Linked DNA regions of Homo sapiens. The protein of the gene in region 2 purifies or fractionates together with the protein of the main gene of each other region. This does not show direct contact. Each region holds a gene or a part of one and is shown on either strand. Other genes may lie near its edges. The genes, in order: SNAP29, PPFIBP2 and SPECC1L.

Region 1 (3,651 bases), on a different chromosome or scaffold from region 2:
AACTCCTGACCTCAGGTGATCCGCCCGCCTTAGCCTCCCAAAGTTCTGGGATTACAGGCATAAGCCACCATGCTTGGCCAATTCTTAAATTGTTTTTTCTTTTTGAGACAGAGTCTTGCTCTGTTGCCCAGGCTGGAGTGCAGTGGCGTGATCTCGATTTACTGCAACCTCCATCTCCCGGGTTCAAGCTATTCTTCTGCCTCAGCCTCCTGAGTAGCTGGGATTACAGGTGCCTACTCAAGTGATCCCCCTGCCTCAGCCTCCAAAAGTGCCAGGATTACAGCCATGCAGGCATGAGCCACTGTGTCCAGCCTATTACTTTTTTTTTTTTTTTTTGAGATGGAGTCTCACTCTGTTGCCCAGGCTGGAGTGCAGTGGCACGATCTCGGCTCACTGCAACCTCTGCTGACCAGGTTTACACCATTCTCCTGTCTCAGCCTCCTGAGTAGCTGGGACTACAGGCGCCCACTACCACGCCCGGCTAATTTTTTGTATTTTTAGTGGAGACGGGGTTTCACCGTGTTAGCCGGAATGGTCTCGATCTCCTGACCTCGTGATCCGCCCACCTTGGCCTCCCAAAGTGCTGGGATTACAGGCGTGAGCCACTGCACCCGGCCACTGTTTTTATATTTTAAATTTTGTCACTAAAAAGTTGTGAAAGTATGTTTTTTTCTCATCACGTAAGTCCCTATAAAATATCTTTGATTTTGCTCCGTGGCCTAGTTTGCTGACTCTGGCTGTAGACAGGGATAGCTCTTGCAACTCAAAGTCATTTAGACTATGCCTGATGCCCTGCTGATCCCCGACATCCTGCTGAGCCCCCTAAGGTATGGCAGGTGCCTCCAGCTGGGAGCTGTGCCTCCCCAACAGCCTGCTCTCCTCTATCTCAACAGCAGCCTGACCACTTCGCCAGCCAATCTGGGAATCAGGGTTACTCGCAATTTTTGCCCTCCCCCTGCACAGCGCTACTCCCAGTAATCCAGGCAAAACAAACGCCCTCTTGATCTCCCACCCCCTAAGTAGCCCAGAAACCCAGCCTCTCCTTCTGCCTTGCCTTTTTTTTTTGAGACATAGTCTCGCTCTGTCACCCAGGCTGGAGTGCAGTGGCGTGATCTCCACGCACTGCAAGCTCCGCCTCCTGGGTTCACGCCATTCTCCTGCCTCAGCCTCCCAAGTAGCTGGGACTACAGGCGCCCGCCACCACGCCCGGCTAATTTTTTGTATTTTTAGTACAGGGTTTTTGTATTTTATTTTGTATTTTGTATTTTAGAGACAGGGTTTCACTGTGTTAGCCAGGATGGTCTCGATCTCCTGACCTCATGATCTGCCCGCCTCGGCCTCCCAAAGTGCTGGGATTACAGGCTTGAGCCACCGTGCCCGGCCTGCCTTGCTTTTCTTTACCTTTAACAAGGATTATGGCAATGCCTCTCAATTCAATTCCCTCCCTTCCAATCCTTACTCCCCATGGGTGCTGCGCATCTTTCTAAAGCAATACTGGCAAGCACCTCTTCAGTTAAAGTCTTTAATGACTCCCAACTTGCAAGAGCAAGTCCAGACTCCCGCAAGCTAAGGGTTTTGCAGGCCCAGGGCTCCAGCTATGGGTAGAATGCAGCAGAGCCTGGTGAATGGAAGGATTTAACACTCCAGGATTTCACCCCACGGAAGCTGTGACTGAAAGTCTAGAACACAGAACTGGCTCCTCTAAGCACCACTGTGGGCAGTGCATTGCCATGCTGGGAGTAGGAAGAGACACTTGGCTTCTGAGTCTGCCTGGCCACCTTTCAGCCTGCACATCTCAACGCTGGCTTTATTCTTTCTATGTGCCATCACATATATACTGGTAATACATAAATGAGGAAAACAATGGTTTCTTTGTGAAAAATGGCTCCCCCACAAAGAAAGCCAATTTTTTTCTTTTTCTTTTTTTGAGACGGAGTCTAGCTCTGTCTCCCAGGCTGGAGTGCAGGGGCATGACCTCGGCTCACTGCAACCTCCACCTCCCTGGTTCAAGAGATTCTCCTGCTTCAGCCTCCTGAGTAGCTGGGATTATAGGTGAGCGCCACTACGCCCGGCTAATTTTTTTTTTTAGAGGGAGTTCTGCTCTTGTTGCCCAGGCTGGGGTACAATGGTGCGATCTTGGCTTACTGCAACCTCTGCCTCCCTGGTTCAAGCGATTCTCCTGCCTCAGCCTCCCAAGTAGCTGAGATTACAGGTGTGTGCCACCTTGCTTGGCTCATTTTGTATTTTTAGTAGAGACAGGGTTTCTCCATGTTGGTGAGGCTGGTCTCGAACTCCTGACCTCAGGTGATCCACCCTCCTTGGCCTCCCAAAGTGCTGGGATTACAGGCGTGAGCCACCGTGCCAGGCCTGATTTTTGTATTTTTAGTAGAGACAGGGTTTCATCATGTTGGCTAGGCTGGTCTTGAACACCTGACTTTGTGATCCGCCCACCTCAACCTCCAAAGTGCTGGGATTATAGGCGTGAGCCACCACGCTCAGCCAAGAAAGCCAATTTCTAGGGAGACTGAGAAAAGTGATAAGACAGTAGAGGTTTAAGAGAGGGTGGTTCCTGGTCAGAAACCAAGTCTTAAATAAGTTAGAGAATTTCAAATTAAGGGTGCATATGTGACAGGAACGCATGAGCTGTAAGTGGAAATGAGAACAAGCAGCTTGGAAAGCTGTCAGCAAGGACAAACAGGGCTTCCCAAGAGACAAAACTTCAGAGAAGGCCGAAGGGTTTGTGTGATAATGATGTACACAGGAAATGCATGACTGAACAGAAGTTTGATAGGAGAAACTTATTTTAAAAGCTTTTGAGGCCGAGGCGGGCAGATCACTAGGTCAGGAGATCGAGACCATCCTGGCTAACATGGTGAAACCCCATCTCTACTAAAAATACAAAAAAAATTTAGCCGGGCGTGGTGGCGGGTGCCTGTAGTCCCAGCTGCTTGGGAAGCTGAGGCAGGAGAATGGCGTGAACGTGGGAGACGGAGCTTGCAGTGAGCCGAGATCACGCCACTGCACTCCAGCCTGGGTGACAGAGCGAGATTCCATCTCAAAAAAAAAAAAAAAAAGCTTTTAAGTGGGCCAGGCACAGTGGCTCATGCCTGCAATCCTAGCACTTTGGGAGGCTGAGGCGGGAAGATCAGTTGAGCCCAGGTGGTTGAGATCAGCCTGGGAGACAAAGTGAGACCTTGTTTCTACAAAAAATACGAAAATTAGCAGTGCATGGTGGCCCATGCATGTAGTCCCAGCTACTTGGGAGGCAGAGGTGGGAGGGTTGCTGGATCCTGGGAGGTGGAGGATACAGTGAGCAGAGACTGCACCACTGCACTCCAGCCTGGGCGACAGAGCGAGACATTGTCTTAAAAAAAAAAAAAAAAAAAAGGCAAAGTTTTTAAGTGACAGTATTCCTGCATTTATGGATTAAAGGTTTTGACAGGATCACAAAAATTTTACTCACAATTTATTGCATTTTTTTTTTTTGAGATGGAGTCTCTGTCGCCCAGGCTGGACTGCAGTGGCTTGATCTTGGCTCACTGCAACCTCCACCTCCCGGGTTCATGCCATTCTCCTGCCTCAGCCTCCCAAGCAGCTGGGACTACAGGTGCCCACCATCACCCCTGGCTAATTTTTTGTATTTTTAGTAGA
Region 2 (3,651 bases):
TTCTCTAGCCTCTAAAAGCTAATGGTCTACACATTCTCATGCTTCTTTTCAAGCTTCCTGGAGTCTGGGGATACTCATCGAAGAATAAATGGATCTGGAAAGGTCCCAGGTCTCATGCACGAGGAGGACCTGGTAAGACTAGAAACCTGTTTGGCAAGCCAGGGAAGTGCAGTATCATATCCATGTGCAAAATAAGCTAAGACTCCCTTCCGCAGGGGATGCAGGTCTGCAAACAATATGATGCATTTAGGGAAATGCTTTTCTTCCTTAATTGGAATCTAGACTATATTATTTCTGAGAACGGACATCTGAATGATACATATCATAACCAGTAATTACCTGTACTCTGCATTGGTATATGGCAATCTTGAGGTGACTAAACTGAAGAGAGTTACAGCTTACTTTTTGCCTTTTGGTTAGATATAAAATGTCACATTCCAATCCTGTGGAAGACCTCCAGGAGTACTGATCTTGGCTGAGTAACTCAGAACTTAGGAGATATTGTGCTGGAAATGACGTACTGTAGGGACTGCTTGACTGGGGAAGAGAATATGGAAAGGGGTTTCCGCAAAACACAGGAGTAAAGATTCACCCATGCAGGTTTGAAGGGAGATACTTCTTTTTCAGAGCAGGGAGATCAAAGGAAAGTGGGTCAAGCCTTACCTTTTCTGTCCCTTGGAGTCCCTGGTCCTAGAGAGTCTTGGCCCTGCGGTTGCCCGGAGCCCACCTCGTCGAAACTCTGCCATCCCCAGCGTGTCAGTGTAGAAATTTCCTGACTGAGTTCTTCGGATTCTGCATGGAGAAGAATCCATGGAGACGGTCATGGAATAGTCAGAAAGCCTACAGTCACTGTGCTTCCTCTTTTGCAAGGCCATGCAGGCCAGCACAGGGACTCTCGGCAGCACTGCTTCTCCGTACCTTCCCAGAGATCAAGGATCACAACCTGTCGCAGCTCCTTGGCCAGACTCAAGCCTCAATTCGGATCCTGCCTCTGGGATTTGGTCACTTGCCATAGAAGTCAAAGCAAAGTTTGATGCCTTGTAGGAGGCCCCAGTTTCTGCCTCATGTCACAAAGTGGATCAGTTGGGCCAGCAAGTACTTGGCTTTCAAAGGTTTTTCAAAGATTTCTTAAAACAGACTGACTCCTAAGAAGGGAGAATACAGTCTCATCTGTGTCTGTGCCAGATCCAATGTAATATAAGCTGCAGAGATTATGTTCAGGGTGTGTGGAATGGGTGGGTGCTTAGGATGCATGACATGAAAGGCAACTGGATATATTCAATGGGTGTCTTTCATACTTCTCCTTCTCTTGGCCCTGGAAAATATCTCAGATTCTTCTCTTTGAACATGAACACTCTGTTTTGACTGCTGTTTCAGTGTCTATTGGACCAGGGGCTTACATAGACTCTTTGCCCAATCAAAAAGAAAAATTCTAAGCAATATAATTAGGATCAACGGCACCAACTTACTTTCCCCAGAACTTCTTAATGCCTTTGGGATTCCGTTTACCATCTGGTGTCAGAGGAGACTGAGGACCTGATTCAGTGCCCGATGATGTGGATGAGAGGTCATTGACCACAGCAGTGTCGTCCCAGCCACTTTCTGTGTCTCCTGAGATTGGAAGAAGGCAATGAATGTGAATGTAAGGATGTGACCCCTGGAACCCTTCTTCCCCAAGCCTGGGCCCTCCCCTTCAGTGGGAGTCCAGAGAATCTGCCCAGTTCTGCCTTCAGGGCAGAACTCCATACCAAGATCCCAGAGACTAGTGGGGACTCCAGGCTTCCTTGCTGAGAAATTAGTGTGCTCAATATTTCAAATCTAGGTGAGCTAATGTCTTTAATTTTAAGGATTTGGGGTCCAAAGTACTTGTGGATTATTCCAACAAGCAGCTTCTTTTTCCTCAGAGGGAGATGCAGGAACGCAGGCAGTAGTGGGTCCCTGGCTGAGTGCTGGTGAAGGGGAGGGTTAGGGTAGGGAAACAAAGGCATTCTCACTCTCCACCTCACCTGGAATGGGTACAGTACCTAATACGGGGGCACTGACACTCCGGCCACGATCTCCAGTGAACCAAGAAGCAGAGAAGCCACATGAAGAAACAAGAGAGGCCAAAGTCCAGCCCAACAGAGTTACGGGGAAGCAAAGAAATAAACAAAAGAGTGTCATCGAGCAAGAGAGAAAAACTCAAACAGAAAGAAAAATAATCCCATGGAGAAGGAGGGGGTGAGTGGTGACTGACACTGAGAAGAGGTTTCATGTGAGGGGACCAAGTGTTCCTGGGGCCCCTTTGTGACAGGCTGAGGTGTCCACACCCAGGGAAAGGAAGGGACAGCAGCAGGGGCTGAATACTCCAGGCCACAGGCAGCTCTTGTGCAGGTGCCTGGGCTCACTCAGCTCAGACTAGAACAATCTGAAGCCATAGTGAGTCCAGTTTGAGTGTCACTAGAACACACTCATTCAAGGGTTTATCTGAAGTTCCTGCAGCCAACGGCAGAGCTGGCCTTCACTAGGCCAATGCATGGGCCAGCTCAGGGAAGAGCTGAGGCTGAGGAGCCTCAGGAAGAACCCTGCCAGGACCAGAATGTTCCCTTCCGGGGCCATTGAATCTTTTGCTGCTGGTGGGGAAAGATGGCTTATTTTGAATGAAAAGCAGCAAAAGCCTCTGTGGTTTCAGGTCTTACGCACCGAAAGGATACCTGCAGACCGACACCCTTGCCCATTGGCCACTGACTTCATTTGCCTAAGGAAATGCTCCCACTTGGAGTGCATGATACCCTCCTACGGGGAATAGGGAAGCTGCAGAGAAGAAGGTGGAGACAGGAGAGAGAAGATCAGAATGACAGAGGAAGGAAGCACCAGGGGCAGGAAGGGTAGAAGGGGGTGTCTGAGAGGAGGGAAAACAATGCTAGGAAGGACAGGAAAGAGTTCGAGAGGAGGAAGAGAAGAAGAGAGGAAATAAGGGTGAAAAGCTGCAGCCGAAAAGAAGTAGGGGATACACACACCCTGGTTTGCTGAGACTGTAGAGTGCTGACCTTAGAAAACAGCTCGCCCAGGGGGAGCCTCTGGGGAGGTGGGACCACCCCAAGGTACAACTTGTTCCAGCCACCCACCCCACCATTCTCCAATTGTGGATTGTGGTGGTAGGTGCAGGGATCTTATACAATCATTGAAAGTGCCAAGGACACTGCTCAGAGGCCACCAGCACCAGGGCTGGACACTCACTCAGCCTCAGCAGGCTGCTCCCCGTGGCGTCAGGCTGGCAGATGGTGGGAGGAGATTTGGCAGCCTCTCCATTGGGCGTGGCTCCTGAAAGCTTCCCAGGTAAAGTGGGATATTTGTGCTCCGCCAAGAAAGGGCTGTCCTATTGGAAGGTGAGAGAAAGAGAGAGATACCGACTTAACTGTCAGCCTCAGTTAGGAAATCCTTGGATACAGAACAACTCCCTGTTTTGCAAGAGCCATTTTTCACATATGGTGACTTGAACACCCCTCAAAGATTATTTAGCTAGTCCGAGAAAGGGGACCAGAGTTCCAAGGAAGGAAGAAACTTTCCCAAGGCCACACAGTAAGACAGGGACAGAGTCAAGTGCAAATCTGGGGCTGACTGAAACTGACTCTAACAGGAAGTGAAGCTGTCTTGCAAAGCGGCCTTTGC
Region 3 (3,651 bases), on a different chromosome or scaffold from region 2:
TCTGCTTTTTCTTTGTCCAGCCTGACACTCTCCAGGAGGTCCTGAATATCAGATTTGTCTCCAGAGTTATGGATAGAATACAGCTCTGCCACTTTCTGCTTTTCATTCTCCAGCTGAGCCTTCAGGCGATTCATCTCTATCTGGTCACTGGCCACTGTGGCTTTGTATTCCTCTAACGTGGCTGCCAAGGCTGCTTTTCCTTTCTGCTCAGACTCAATAATTCGCTCCATATGGTGACTGCGTTCTTTGAGTGCCCCTATCATTTCTTGAGCTTCCTTATTGTCTTGTTCTGCCATTTTCAAAGTATTGCTTAAATGCTGCTGGACACCAAGAAGCTGCTCCCGTTCAAAACGGGCATTCTCAGCGAGGTCCATGTAACGTTGCTCTAATTCCATATAGCGCCCACTTTTTACATCTTCATCTATGACATAAGAAATGTGATGCTCATCTAGAAGAGAGCGGAAGTATTCAATCTGTCGACTAAAGTGTTCCAACTTATCGCTCTGCTGACATAAAGACTCCATCAGAATAACCTTCTCTTCTCCAAGCCTTTCGTTTTCACTATTCAGTTCCTGGGTAATCTGCTGTAAATCAGCTAGCTCTTGCAGGGTTGCCTGGAGTTCCTCACTTGTACTGTGTTGGTTCTCTTCCATCTGGTGTATCCGTTCAGTCAGGCAAGCCACGGACACTTCACTGGCATTCCCGCTGCTCCCCTTCCGGGAGCGCTCTATGCTGGGGATGCCTTCCGACTCTGAGGAGGATGGTGCATCCAGCGCATCATCGCTCGATGTGAGGGGCTGGTAGACCTCACTGCACTCACTGTCTAAATTGTCCATGGAGTTACTGTGCTGATGGTCCATTAGTGTATTTTCATCCTGACTCAAGAGATCCTCCACTGAGCCAGGGGCAGAGCCTTCCACTGAAGAAGTCAGAGTTCCTCCTCCATCGCTCTGGTTACCAGGGGTGATTTCTGGGCTCAGGGACTGATAGCCAAACAGTTTTTCAGAATTGTCTAACCTCTGCTCTAGGGAAAAGCCCAATGCATTCAACCTGTCCTTTAACATTCTGTTTTCATTTTTCAGCTGGTTGAGTTCTTCACGGATGGCAGTATTCTGTTCCTGCAACTGCAATAAAGTGGACTCCACATCAGTCGGCTGGTGAGCCATAATAGTTTCCTTCTCAGATTTTTCATCACCCTCAGAATGATCCTCATTAATGCCCAGCTGGGCACGCATGTCTCGCAGTTCATTTCTCAAATGTAAAATTTCTACGTCTTTGGTTTTTGCCAGCGTGAGAAGATCCTTCACTTTGGCCTCCAAAGCAGCTCTGTCACTGATCTGATTGTCTGACTTAGACTTGCTCATACGAACGTCACATTCTGTAGCAGTTCGACTGCGGGAACGTTTGGCCAATGCCATGTCATTAGCTCCCTGACCTGCAGAAGGTAGTTTTTTGCTCTGGTTTAATCGGGTACGTTCACGTAATCTTTCTCTAGTAGAACTGGATTCTTTATTACCTGTAGAAGTGCTCCGCTTGGTTGAAGAAGCTGTGCCTATGTGTTTAATACAAAAAATGTAAGGCAAAAATGTCAGCAATAAAAGGCTACATAGAATACACAGTTCCTGCCCCAGGTGTAATGAGATGAAATCCAGGATCTACACAATGATTTAGATCTACAATAATCTTGCCTTAGAGTCTGTTAAAGTTCAATTTCTTCAAAACCAGAAGATCATTCATCTTTTAATTATCAAGGAGAAATAAGTTATACACTTTGTTTTACATGTTTTTAAAAGAGTAAATTTTATGGAATGTGAATTACATTTCTACAAAGCTGTTATTTAAATGATATACATTAACTTGAATCCAGAAGTGGGGTTTTAACCAGTTGGCCAGAGGCATAATATTCTAGGGCAAGACAGGTGAAGATGACTCCAGGATTAGCCAGTCGGTGGTAAACTAACTGTACACAGATAGTGAAGGGAGATCATAGGTGGGCAAGAAGGGAAAAGCAGTCTCTGGGAAAACCAAAAATCTAAGCTACCTACTAGAAACACAAAAATTTTACTCTGACCAAAGTAAATGCAAAATAGTTTTAACACCATAAAATGCCACATAAATAATAACAATTATAACAATAGCTAACACATACCTAGCACTTGGTTATACAAATACATTAACACTTCACATACATTAACTTATATAAGCCTCATTAAAGACGTGAGGTAGGTGCTATTATCACCTTGTTTTACAGATGAAGAAACTCAGACACAGATGTTAAATAATTTGCCAACATGTCACAGGTAATAAATAGATGAGCCAAAATTGAAACCCAGGCAGTCTGGTTCCAGATTTTGCACCTTAACCAGTATGTTATACTGTCTCTCTAAATGTAAAAAACAACGAAGCACTAATGTTAAATAATGATGATGCGTCAATCAAATCTACGTGAATCACATGATTACTTAACTACTAAAATTTTAAACCTGTGAAAACTGACACAATCATTTGTTTAATACAAAAAGAACAGGAAGTTTTTTTTGTTCGTTTTTTTGGTTTTTTTTGAGATGGAGTCTCTCTTGACCATCACCCAGGCTATAGTGCAGTGGAGCGATTTCGGCTCACTGCAACCTCTGACTCCCAGGTTCAAGCGATTCTCCTTCCTAGGCCTCCCAAGTAGCTGGGATTACAGGAGCGTGCCACCATGCCTGGCTAATTTTTTTGTATTTTTAGTAGAGATAGGGTTTCACCATGTTGGCCAGGCTGGTCTCAAACTCCTGACCTCAAATGATCTGCCCGCGTCGGTCTCCCAGCGTGCTGGGATTACAGGCGTGAGCCACTGAATTTACAGGCGTGAGCCACCGCACTTACAGGCGTGAGCCACCGCACCTGGCCAGGAATATGTTTAAATACCTGTAAATACTTAAGAAATAACAAATTTTTATGTTAAAAAATAAGATCCACATCTAATCAATAAGTATTTTTAAAGACCCTGCTGGTTCATTAGGTGGTGGGATCCAGGCTGTAGAGGTAACAGGGAGCAAATGATCTCCACAGATAGAGGGAGATAGCCACTAACAGAACAGGTATACAGGAGGATGCGGAATTCAGGCTGGCAAAAAGACAGACAACGAAAGGAAGCAGAAGTGAACATGGCACACAGAAAGGAAAAGTACAGTCACACAGTTAACGGAAGCTGCTGGGGAATGTTCATATAGAGTCCCAAAAGATAGGCAGAATTCAGTGAGTCACACTAAGTCAATAAATGATCCTGAGTAGGAAAGAAATGTAAGGAAAAGTACATTTTATGAAAATTAATCTAGAGGATACTGATATGGTTTGGCTGTGTCCCCACCCAAATCTCATCTTGAACTGTAGTTCCCATAATCCCTATGTGTTTCGGGAGGGACCTGTTGGGAGGTAATTTAATCATGGAAGCAGTTACCCTCACGCTGTTCTCGTGATAGTGAGTTCTCATGACAGCCGATGGTAAGGGGCTTCCCCTTTGCTTGGCTCTCATTCTCCTCCTTCCTGCCACTATGTGGAGAAGAATGTGCCTGCTACCCCTTCCACCATAATTCTAAGTTTCCAGAGGCCTCCCCATCTCTGTGGACCTGTGAGTAAATTAAACCTCTTTTCTTTATGAATTACTCA

What was found.
Region 1: the proteins of PPFIBP2 (region 2) and SNAP29 purify together in Homo sapiens (co-immunoprecipitation; 2 studies listed by BioGRID and IntAct, with this or other methods). This does not show direct contact.
Region 3: the proteins of PPFIBP2 (region 2) and SPECC1L purify together in Homo sapiens (affinity purification with mass spectrometry; one large-scale study listed by BioGRID and IntAct). This does not show direct contact.

What each region holds. Positions count from the first base shown.
Region 1 is NC_000022.11:20,875,992-20,879,642, reverse strand, and holds part of SNAP29 (synaptosomal-associated protein 29), read right to left. Parts: intron 1-3,651. UniProt on the Homo sapiens protein: SNAREs, soluble N-ethylmaleimide-sensitive factor-attachment protein receptors, are essential proteins for fusion of cellular membranes.
Region 2 is NC_000011.10:7,639,439-7,643,089, reverse strand, and holds part of PPFIBP2 (liprin-beta-2), read right to left. Parts: intron 3,359-3,651; coding exon 3,220-3,358; intron 2,058-3,219; coding exon of another isoform or gene 2,025-2,057; intron 1,612-2,024; coding exon 1,470-1,611; intron 793-1,469; coding exon 664-792; intron 1-663. UniProt on the Homo sapiens protein: May regulate the disassembly of focal adhesions. Did not bind receptor-like tyrosine phosphatases type 2A.
Region 3 is NC_000022.11:24,319,189-24,322,839, reverse strand, and holds part of SPECC1L (cytospin-A), read right to left. Parts: intron 1,553-3,651; coding exon 1-1,552. UniProt on the Homo sapiens protein: Involved in cytokinesis and spindle organization. May play a role in actin cytoskeleton organization and microtubule stabilization and hence required for proper cell adhesion and migration.